3 separate regions of the Homo sapiens genome follow, and all the other regions are linked to region 2. Evidence: fine-mapped expression QTL. A gene starts in region 2. Each other region holds a variant in brackets. All regions are shown on one strand. Distances are from middle to middle.

Region 1 (2,774 bases), 120 kb before region 2:
GGTGTCTTAACATCACAGCACAATACATTACCTTTTTTACGTCTAGATATGTTTAGACTCAAATGCCATTGTATTACAATTGTCTATTTACTACAGTAACATGCTGTACAGGTTTCTAGCCTGGGAACAACAGGCTATACCTTATAGCCTAGGTGTATAGTGCTGTACCATCTAGGTTTGTGTAAGTGCACTTCATGATGTTCCCACAACAACAAAATCACCTAATGATGCATTTCTCAGAACATATTCCCGTAGTTAAGAGATACGTAGTTTTAATAGAATTATTCTAAAATGCATAAAAAATTACCAAACCATTAGAAGAATTTAGTATATTCTGACCTCAAATACTACAAGGCTTTGTACTAATTATTAACCAAAATAAGAATATCTCTACTACAAATTCATGGAAAAGACAGGAAAGTAGGCATAGATAAATGGGAAGTGGACCAAATATCTTTCAAATTCATTGAATTTGTTTACTTAAAATAGCATGTCATGCTGGTAATATGCTTGGATCAATAAAAACAGATTGGCTTTGGTAAAATAGATGTAAAATGGGGAAATACTGGAAAACAGCTGTAAGCATGTATATGCTTATCCTGTAAGATGATTTCCTAACGTATGAAATCCAAACTATTAACCATGGGATTCAACCTCTATCAGATGTCACGTTTCATTTTCCATTGCCCTGTCTCAGTCAACCCTTTTAACTCTCTACCTCCATATGCTCTGTGCCTGCCTCTCTTATCTACCCAGGCAGACCTCTATCTTATATTACACCATATGATATTGCAATTGTCTTATATGCCTAGTTTTTCCTACTGGATTTGAGCTTTCAGTGAGATTAGGAACTATGTCTTGACTATCTTTGTGTCTGTTGTGTCTAGCACAGGACTTATCACAAAGCAAATGCTCAGTATACATTTAGTGAATAAATGATTTTAAAATGAATGATTCTCAAAAATCAATTATTAAAAAAAAATCACAGAAAAGAAACCCAGATCACTTATGGCCAACCTTAAAAGGTATCACTTTCTTTTTTTACACAAAAACTAATACTTTACTTCATGAAAATATGTTCTGAAATATGAGACCATTCAAGTCTGTATCTCTTAAAATGTTCAGTGTTATTTGGTAATAAAAGCATAAGGA[A/G]TAATACAATAAATATCCTTATTTCGAATACACAGCCTGAGAAATGAAACATTAACAACAGTTTTAAGTTGCATAATACTTGTTTTCTAGCTTTCTGTTGATTTTATAGGGCAAAACCAAAGACAATTTTAAAGTGTAAGCATTTAAATAAATAAAAGTACACCATTGTGCTTTGTTTCCTTAACTTACTTTTCTGTTTTGAAGAATATTGCACAACCATCTACATGCTTTCTCTCCTGCTCAGACATGATTTTGGCACGTGACTTTGGAGAAAAAAATCCATCATATCCACGCTCCTTCAATGCTGGCAGAAAGAGAGTGAAGTATTGCTCTGTTTCCACTTCCTGAGATGAAAGAAAAGTTATCATCTATATGACAGAGGGAAAATGCTGATTAAGATATAAAAATGTTCAGCATTATGAGTAAGATGTAACTTAGTAAAAATAATTCACATAGCAAATATTATCTTACTATCTTACCTGATTGCTAGCAGCTGCTACTTGACAATGGCAGCTTTTTAAACATGAAAGAACCAGAAAGGTGACATGATTTTCTCATGCTCACACAGATAGTAACAGGAGTAGGACTACATCCCAAGGTCTCTTGATTCCCAATTTACAGTTCACTCCATTATACTTTACTTCCTCAAGACTGGCAACTAAACAAAGCAAGTTGGGTATATGATAGATTCTGTGATAGGGAATAGTAATTTATATATAAAAAGGTAATTTAAAAACTTGCATATCCTTCTGAACTATGGTGGAAAGAAATGATACCCAAGAGTGAGAAACGTAAAATCTATCCACAAAAAATTCTACTTTAAGAAATTTTTAAGTACCTAAATCGCAATCATCCAATGGCCTCTATTAATTTAATAATTATTAGTCTATTTTATTCTTTGACTCATAAAATATTTTAACAGGTCTTTCTAAATGAAATAAATATGAAGATAATTTATGTATGCAGATGTTTCTAACAGCATGAGTTTATGACAGCAAAAACCCATAAACAACTAAATGTGTCCAATGGTATGGGAAAAGCTACATCAATATACGTTCATATAATTAATGAGTTTTGAAGAATTTTAGTAACATGGAAAATCCATTAAGTACAATAAATAAGAATCAAAATGTATCTGTAAATATATTTTACTTAATGTATAGAAGAAAAATACTCCAGAAGTTTTAACACAACTATCTTATGACATGAAATTAGGTATTTCCCTCCATCATGCTTTATATTTTTTCAAAATTTTCAACTTCTCTAGAATGATCTCTTTTTAATACAGTATAGTATTATAGCATTGCTTTTATAATAAGACAATTTTCTTAAATTATGTTCTATCCTTCAAACTGCTATATTTAGGAGGGTGTGAGGCTGTTATCACTACAAATACTAAACCAAGAAGTAGACAAGAAACTACAATAGCCTGATTTTGTTTGCCGCCTCCTCTCCCCAATTCTCTGTTAGTCTCAGTATTTAGAAGAAATTTTATTTTAATTTTAAAAGATTTTTACTTTTTTCCCAAGCAACCTAAAAATAAATTATCAAGCTACTCTGTTACATAAAAAAATTTTTAATAATTTTTCCTCTCAGGCTATGATGAAAAGAATGTGTGAAAT
Region 2 (2,774 bases):
ATGGGCCTGGCACTGAAGTATGTGCTGAGGTTACAAAAATGAGTAAGATGGTTTCTACCCATAAAAAGCTCAGACTGGTGACAAGAACTGATATATTGTGGTGATGGCTGCACAACTCTTTGAGTACACTAAAAACCATTTAATTGTACAATTTAAATTGGTAGATTGTATGCTATGTAAATTATATCTCAAAACTGTTTAAAAGAAACACAGCCTGAGGCGAAATCTTTAAAAAGTTACCTAGGTGATGTAGGGTACGGTACACACGAAGCAGAGAAGATAGAATGAACCAAGTTATGGAGGTGAGAAACGTGTGTGTGTGTGTGTGTGTGTGTGTGTGTGTGTGTGTGTTGTGGGGGAGGTAAGCTGGGAAGTGATAAAATCCGTAATCAGATTTGTTTTAGATAAACCACACCGACAGCTGTGACGTAATGGAAAGTACACTCATTCTGTTTTGTTTTTGTTTTTTTTTCCTATCAGAATAACTTGTGCGTGGGTCTTGGAGCTGCCATTTTAAAACTAGAAATGTTTTATAAATGTCAAGTATTATTATTCAATTGATCCTAATGGTAAGTCTACTCGCTTGCCAGCAGGGGGTAAATGTAGAGATTAATTTAAGATTTTAAAGCTAAGGTTGATCTTGCGCTGACAGAAAGTTTGACAATTAGCAAAAAAAGTTTGTCAGTGAGTTGGACACCTCCCTCGGGTAGCGGCGAAAACGCCTAGAGAATTTTTAAAATAAGTCTTTCCAAGGCCGGAAAAGTGGCGGAGGAAGCTAGTGGGTTTCAGGGTTCCTGTTTTTCAAGATTTTACGTTGGGTATTAAGTACTCTCACAGCCTGTTAAAATTGTCGCTCTGAGTACACTTGCAGGATCAAAAAAGAAAAAGAATAAGAAGGAAGGATTAAAATAATCACAGCATCGCCAACAGGATCGTATTTTCCCGAAGGTGGTTAACCAGCCATACCGGAACCACGAAACACACAGGGTCCTGGGCAACACGGAGGACTAACAGTAACACCGCCACGCCGGCAGCAAAGCTCATTTTGGTCCCCGCCCCGTTCCTCTTTCTCTTTTTAACTCCTTCCCTCTTTGCGGATTCTAGAACGGAACCTTTTTTTAATTCTTCCCAGTAGAAACGTAGGAACAATTTCGTGAACGCAATCCGGAGTGCCCAACATGGCGGCGGCCGTAAGGTGCATGGGTAGAGGTAAGGCGAGGGGTTGTCTTGCAGGGGAAATGGCTCTGGCACCGAGTCTCTGGTTGCAGCAGAGTGCAAGGCGGATTCTGCTCTGGGTGCTGAAAATGCCTCGTGCTGTTTCTGGTCTCTAGGTTTTTCAGAGGGTGGGTCATTACTACTTAAAAGTGACCTTATGAAGGGTTTCACTCCATTCTGGAGACGTCCACCCTGAGGGAGGGAGTGGGAGCGGGACGTACATCGAGCGCCCTCCAGCCACCTATGGGCATGGCAAGGACTGGGTCGTCTCTGATACTGGGGTGTGGGCTGCGGGTAGTGGAGTGTGATAAGTGAGGTGAGTTCTGATAAGGGAAAGATGATGTATTTGAGTGGCTTAAGTCTGTAAATTAGAGCAATTTTCAAAGTGCTTTTTGGTGCTTTCGGAATTACTTCGTTATAGGCGATTCCAGTTCTTAAACTTCCATAGGTGGTCTAATTTGGATCAACGTTTATCATTTGAGGGGGCTAATTCTGTAGTACCTCTTGGTAGCGCCTCTTTTCATCTTAATAATTTCAACTTTTTGTCTACGATGACAGCCCTTTCTTGTGCAACAATTTTTTTTTTTTTTTTTTTTTGAGACGGCAGTCTCGCTCTGCCACCCAGGCTGGGAGTGCTGTGGTGCGATCTCAGCTCACTGCAACCTCCGTCTCCCAGGTTCAAGCGATTCTCCTGCCTCGGCCTCCCGAGTAGCAGAGACTACAGGCGTGTGCCACCATGCCTGGCTAATTTTTGTATTTGTAGTAGAGACAGGGTTTCACCATGTTGACCAGGCTAGTCTTGCACTCCTAATCGCAGGTGATCCGCCCTCCTCGGCCTCTCAAAGTGCTGGGATTACAGGCGTGAGGCACTGCGCCCGGCCTGTGCAACGCTTTTTGCTTTTATTTTGTGTTTTTGAAGTCCAGTGATATATATTGTTTAATTTAGGTAGGTCTTTAGGTAGAAGCAGTAGCCAGCATTACCCCCATTTTACAGAGGAAGAAACTGAACTTATTAGATATGTGGCCAAGTTCATATAACTAGTAAATGGCAGAGGAAGTACTGAAGCTTGCAATCCTAGGTCAGTGATACATGTATATTTAACACTGCATCACAGTTTTTTTTTTTTTTTTTTTGAGTTTCTTTTTAGGAAAACTGTGTCAAGAGAGTTATTGCTCAAAAATTAGGGGTGACAAGAGATAACAACAGACCCTGATGCCTACTTTGTGAGCAAACCAAAATGTATATTATTTCTGAAAGGAGGTTGAAGGCATCTTCATGTATGACAGAAATCGTTATGTTACACAAATCCAAAGAAACCAAAAATACCTGAATATTATAATTTTCTTGTCACATTTTCTTCTCTTGGCTTCTAGGATATCTCTCTGTTAATTGTCTTCCTATTTCATGTGTCATTTTTTCTCACATTACTTGGCTGGTTCCTCTTCCTCTCCCCAGCCTCTTTACTTTGGAGTGTTCTGGAAGCCAGGGTTCCATCCTTCATTCTCATCTCTTCTGTATCTAAATTCACTCCTTGGTTAGCTCATCCAAAGTTTGTGGC
Region 3 (2,774 bases), 100 kb after region 2:
TATGACATTCATCCAGTGTGTAGTTGTAGTTTGTTCGTTCTCATTGTTGTATAATATTCCATTGCTTAAATGTATCACAAATATCCATTCTACTGTTGGTGGACATGTGGATTTTTACAGTTTGGGGTATTACAAATAACGTTGATATGAACATTTTTGTATATTTCTTCTTGTGAAGTTTTAGGGCTATTACAATGATGCTACTTATTAACATTCTTGTCCACTTCTGGTGAAAAGAATATATATGTATTCATAGGTATATATACAACAGAAATGCTTATATATACACATTAGTGTGTGTACACAAATATATGTATTTGTATGTATGTATGAGGTTGGTACAAAAGTAATTGCTGTTTTTGCCATTAAAAACAGCAATTACTTTTGTACCAAGTTTATACGCACATATTTATATCTTGTCCACGTTTGGTGAACATATATATATATATATGAGGGCGATGAACATATGTATAGATAAGATGAACATATATACATGAGGAAAATGAGTATATATATAGTTTGGTGAACATATATATATATTCACCAACAGAAGTGCACAAGATATATACATAAACATTCCTGTTGTATATATACCTAAGCGTGAACTTGCTGGATAGTAACATGCTCCATTACAATGCTCAACACTTTTCCTAAGTAGTTGTACCAATATACATTCCCAAAAGTGTGGAAGATTTCCAACTTCTCCATATTCTTGCCAATACTTGGTTCATTATTTTTTCACTTTAATCATTTTGCTAAATGTGACATTGTCCAGTAATTTTTGAGGGATTTAAAAATCCTGTGAGTGGAGGAGACAGAAGTTAGAATATCACTCTACATTGATTAAAGTTGTAGTATGGTGATCTAGAGTTTTATGGGATTCATAAAATAACTTCTTAAAAATAAAAAGACTTAGAGATGGAAGAAATCTGTTATTTTCTGACTCCCAACAAGTTACTGCCTTCCTGGGAGAGGGGTTAATTCTGTTTGTATTATGCAGTGTAATGAAGAATCCTGTCAGGTTGGTTAGGATACCCAGCTGATTTGAACCCTACCTCCTCTTTATATTTAAATCCCAGTATTTGGTAAAGTCAAGTCTATAAGGTTTTAAGATGTTATTTCTGATACATTATGCAATTTAAATATTACTGCTCTTACCTAGAATAGAGTCTGCAAATTTATGGCACAGATTCTTACCATTCCCCATCCCCATCAGGCACATGACAGATGATGTGAATCACAGAAGACTTTCCCACTGATTTCTATGAGGTCTCAGGGTTGTTTTTTTCCTCACTATACTGCTCCACACAATCACACTGTTGGTTAGAAGTGTCATGGAAGATTCAAACACTTTTGCCTCCTGTACCTCAAGGTACAAGGTAATTTGCTGAATCTTACAATCTTCCCAAGTATTATTGTTGGTTGTCCCTGTAGGAGACTGATTGAAATTTAGGAGGCCGAGGTGGGTGGATCACCTGAGGTTGGAAGTTTAAGACCAGCCTGACCAACATGGAGAAACCCCATCTCTACTAAAAATACAAAATTAGCCAGGCATGGTGGCACATGCCTGTAATCCCAGCTACTTGGGAGGCTGAGGCAAGAGGCAAGAGAACTGCTTGAACCTGGGAGGCAAGAGAATTGCTTGAACCTGGGAGGCAGAGCCGAGATCTCACCATTGTACTCCAGCCTGGACAATAAGAGCAAAACTCCATCTCAA[GAA/G]AAAAAAAAAAAGCTATAATTTAAATCTATTATGTTGTCATACTAACTGAGGAGCTGGTTTACTTGTAGTTTAAGTTTAATTCTGTTTAGTTTTAAAATTTTCTTCTTCCTTTATATTTTAATTTTTTAATCTTTTATTTTCATTTGGACTAGGGAAAATTCTGAGAAGATTGCTATAGCTTCATAGGTCAAAGTAATTTAGGGGAAGTGGGTGACAGAGGAGGAAAGATGATACAAATGGATTAAGCATGAATAGGCCAGGCGCAGTGGCTCACGCCTGTAATCCCTGCACTTTGGGAGGCCAAGGCGGGCGGATCATTTGAGGTCAGGAGTTCGAGACCAGCCTGGCCAACATGGTGAAACCCCGTCTTTACTAAAAATACAAAAAATAGCTGGGCCTGGTGGCAGACACCTGTAATCCCAGCTACTCTGGAGGCTGAGGCAAGAGAATCGTTTGAACACAGAAGGTGGAGGTTGTAGTGAGCCAAGATCGCACCATTACGCTCCAGCCTGGGCAACAGGGCGAGACTCCGTTTCAAAAAAAAAGCATGAATTCTGACAATTTAGGGGCTCGCTGGAGAGTATGTAGCTTTAAAGGTCTGTAAGGTTCTGGAATGTGTTGGATGTGTTGATTATGGTATGATATAGATTGATAATAGCATGTTGCTTGAAATTCAAATTTAAAAAATATGGCAATGAATTAAAGATAGGGGTTTTCAAAGAAGAAAGTTAAAGAAAGAGTTATGTCTTTAAAAATGTTTGGCCATGCTGAGAAAACAAAGGTGATAATTAAAATCTAAGGTAAAAGATAATTAAAACATGAGGCAGAAACAGAAAGGAAGGAAGGATGGATAGATAGATAAGAGTTTGGCAGTAGTGGATGAAACCAGAGATCTAAGGAAAAGGAAGTCAGGAAATAAGCTTTAGCATTAGTAGTTTATGCTGAATGTCATACTCCTAACTCCAAGCCTTACAAGATGTGTAAGGCATTCACTTGCCTCTGTAAGCCTCAATCTTTTTTACTATAAAATGATCATAAGAATGGTCACCTGTGG

Direction of the effects. Positions count from the first base shown, and alleles are read on the strand shown. Sizes are in standard deviations (SD) of each study's normalised expression.
With allele G in place of A in region 1, the expression in whole blood of the gene that starts at base 1,160 in region 2 is higher (moderate effect, 0.61 SD a copy in GTEx).
As copies of GAA replace G in region 3, the expression in monocytes of the gene that starts at base 1,160 in region 2 goes down (large effect, 1.4 SD a copy in BLUEPRINT).

Evidence for each region. PIP is the estimated chance that this variant, and not a neighbour inherited with it, causes the effect. A credible set is the group of variants that fine-mapping cannot tell apart.
Region 1: its variant is the best candidate, but not a certain one, in a credible set for the expression of MRPL1 in whole blood (GTEx, PIP 0.53).
Region 3: its variant is the best candidate, but not a certain one, in a credible set for the expression of MRPL1 in monocytes (BLUEPRINT, PIP 0.55).

What each region holds. Positions count from the first base shown.
Region 1 is chr4:77,740,800-77,743,573 of GRCh38, forward strand. It overlaps CNOT6L (CCR4-NOT transcription complex subunit 6 like), which reads right to left. Exons shown (of 12, transcript NM_144571.3): 8 at 1,342-1,496. Among named protein-coding and RNA genes, the nearest start is that of CNOT6L, 77 kb to the right of the region's middle. The variant A/G (reference allele first, on the strand shown) is at 1,153.
Region 2 is chr4:77,861,671-77,864,444 of GRCh38, forward strand. MRPL1 (mitochondrial ribosomal protein L1) reads left to right here and starts at 1,160. Exons shown (of 9, transcript NM_020236.4): 1 at 1,160-1,209. The coding sequence starts at 1,179. RefSeq lists enhancers at 848-1,247, 1,608-1,707.
Region 3 is chr4:77,964,993-77,967,766 of GRCh38, forward strand. No RefSeq gene overlaps it. Among named protein-coding and RNA genes, the nearest start is that of FRAS1, 91 kb to the right of the region's middle. The variant GAA/G (reference allele first, on the strand shown) is at 1,718.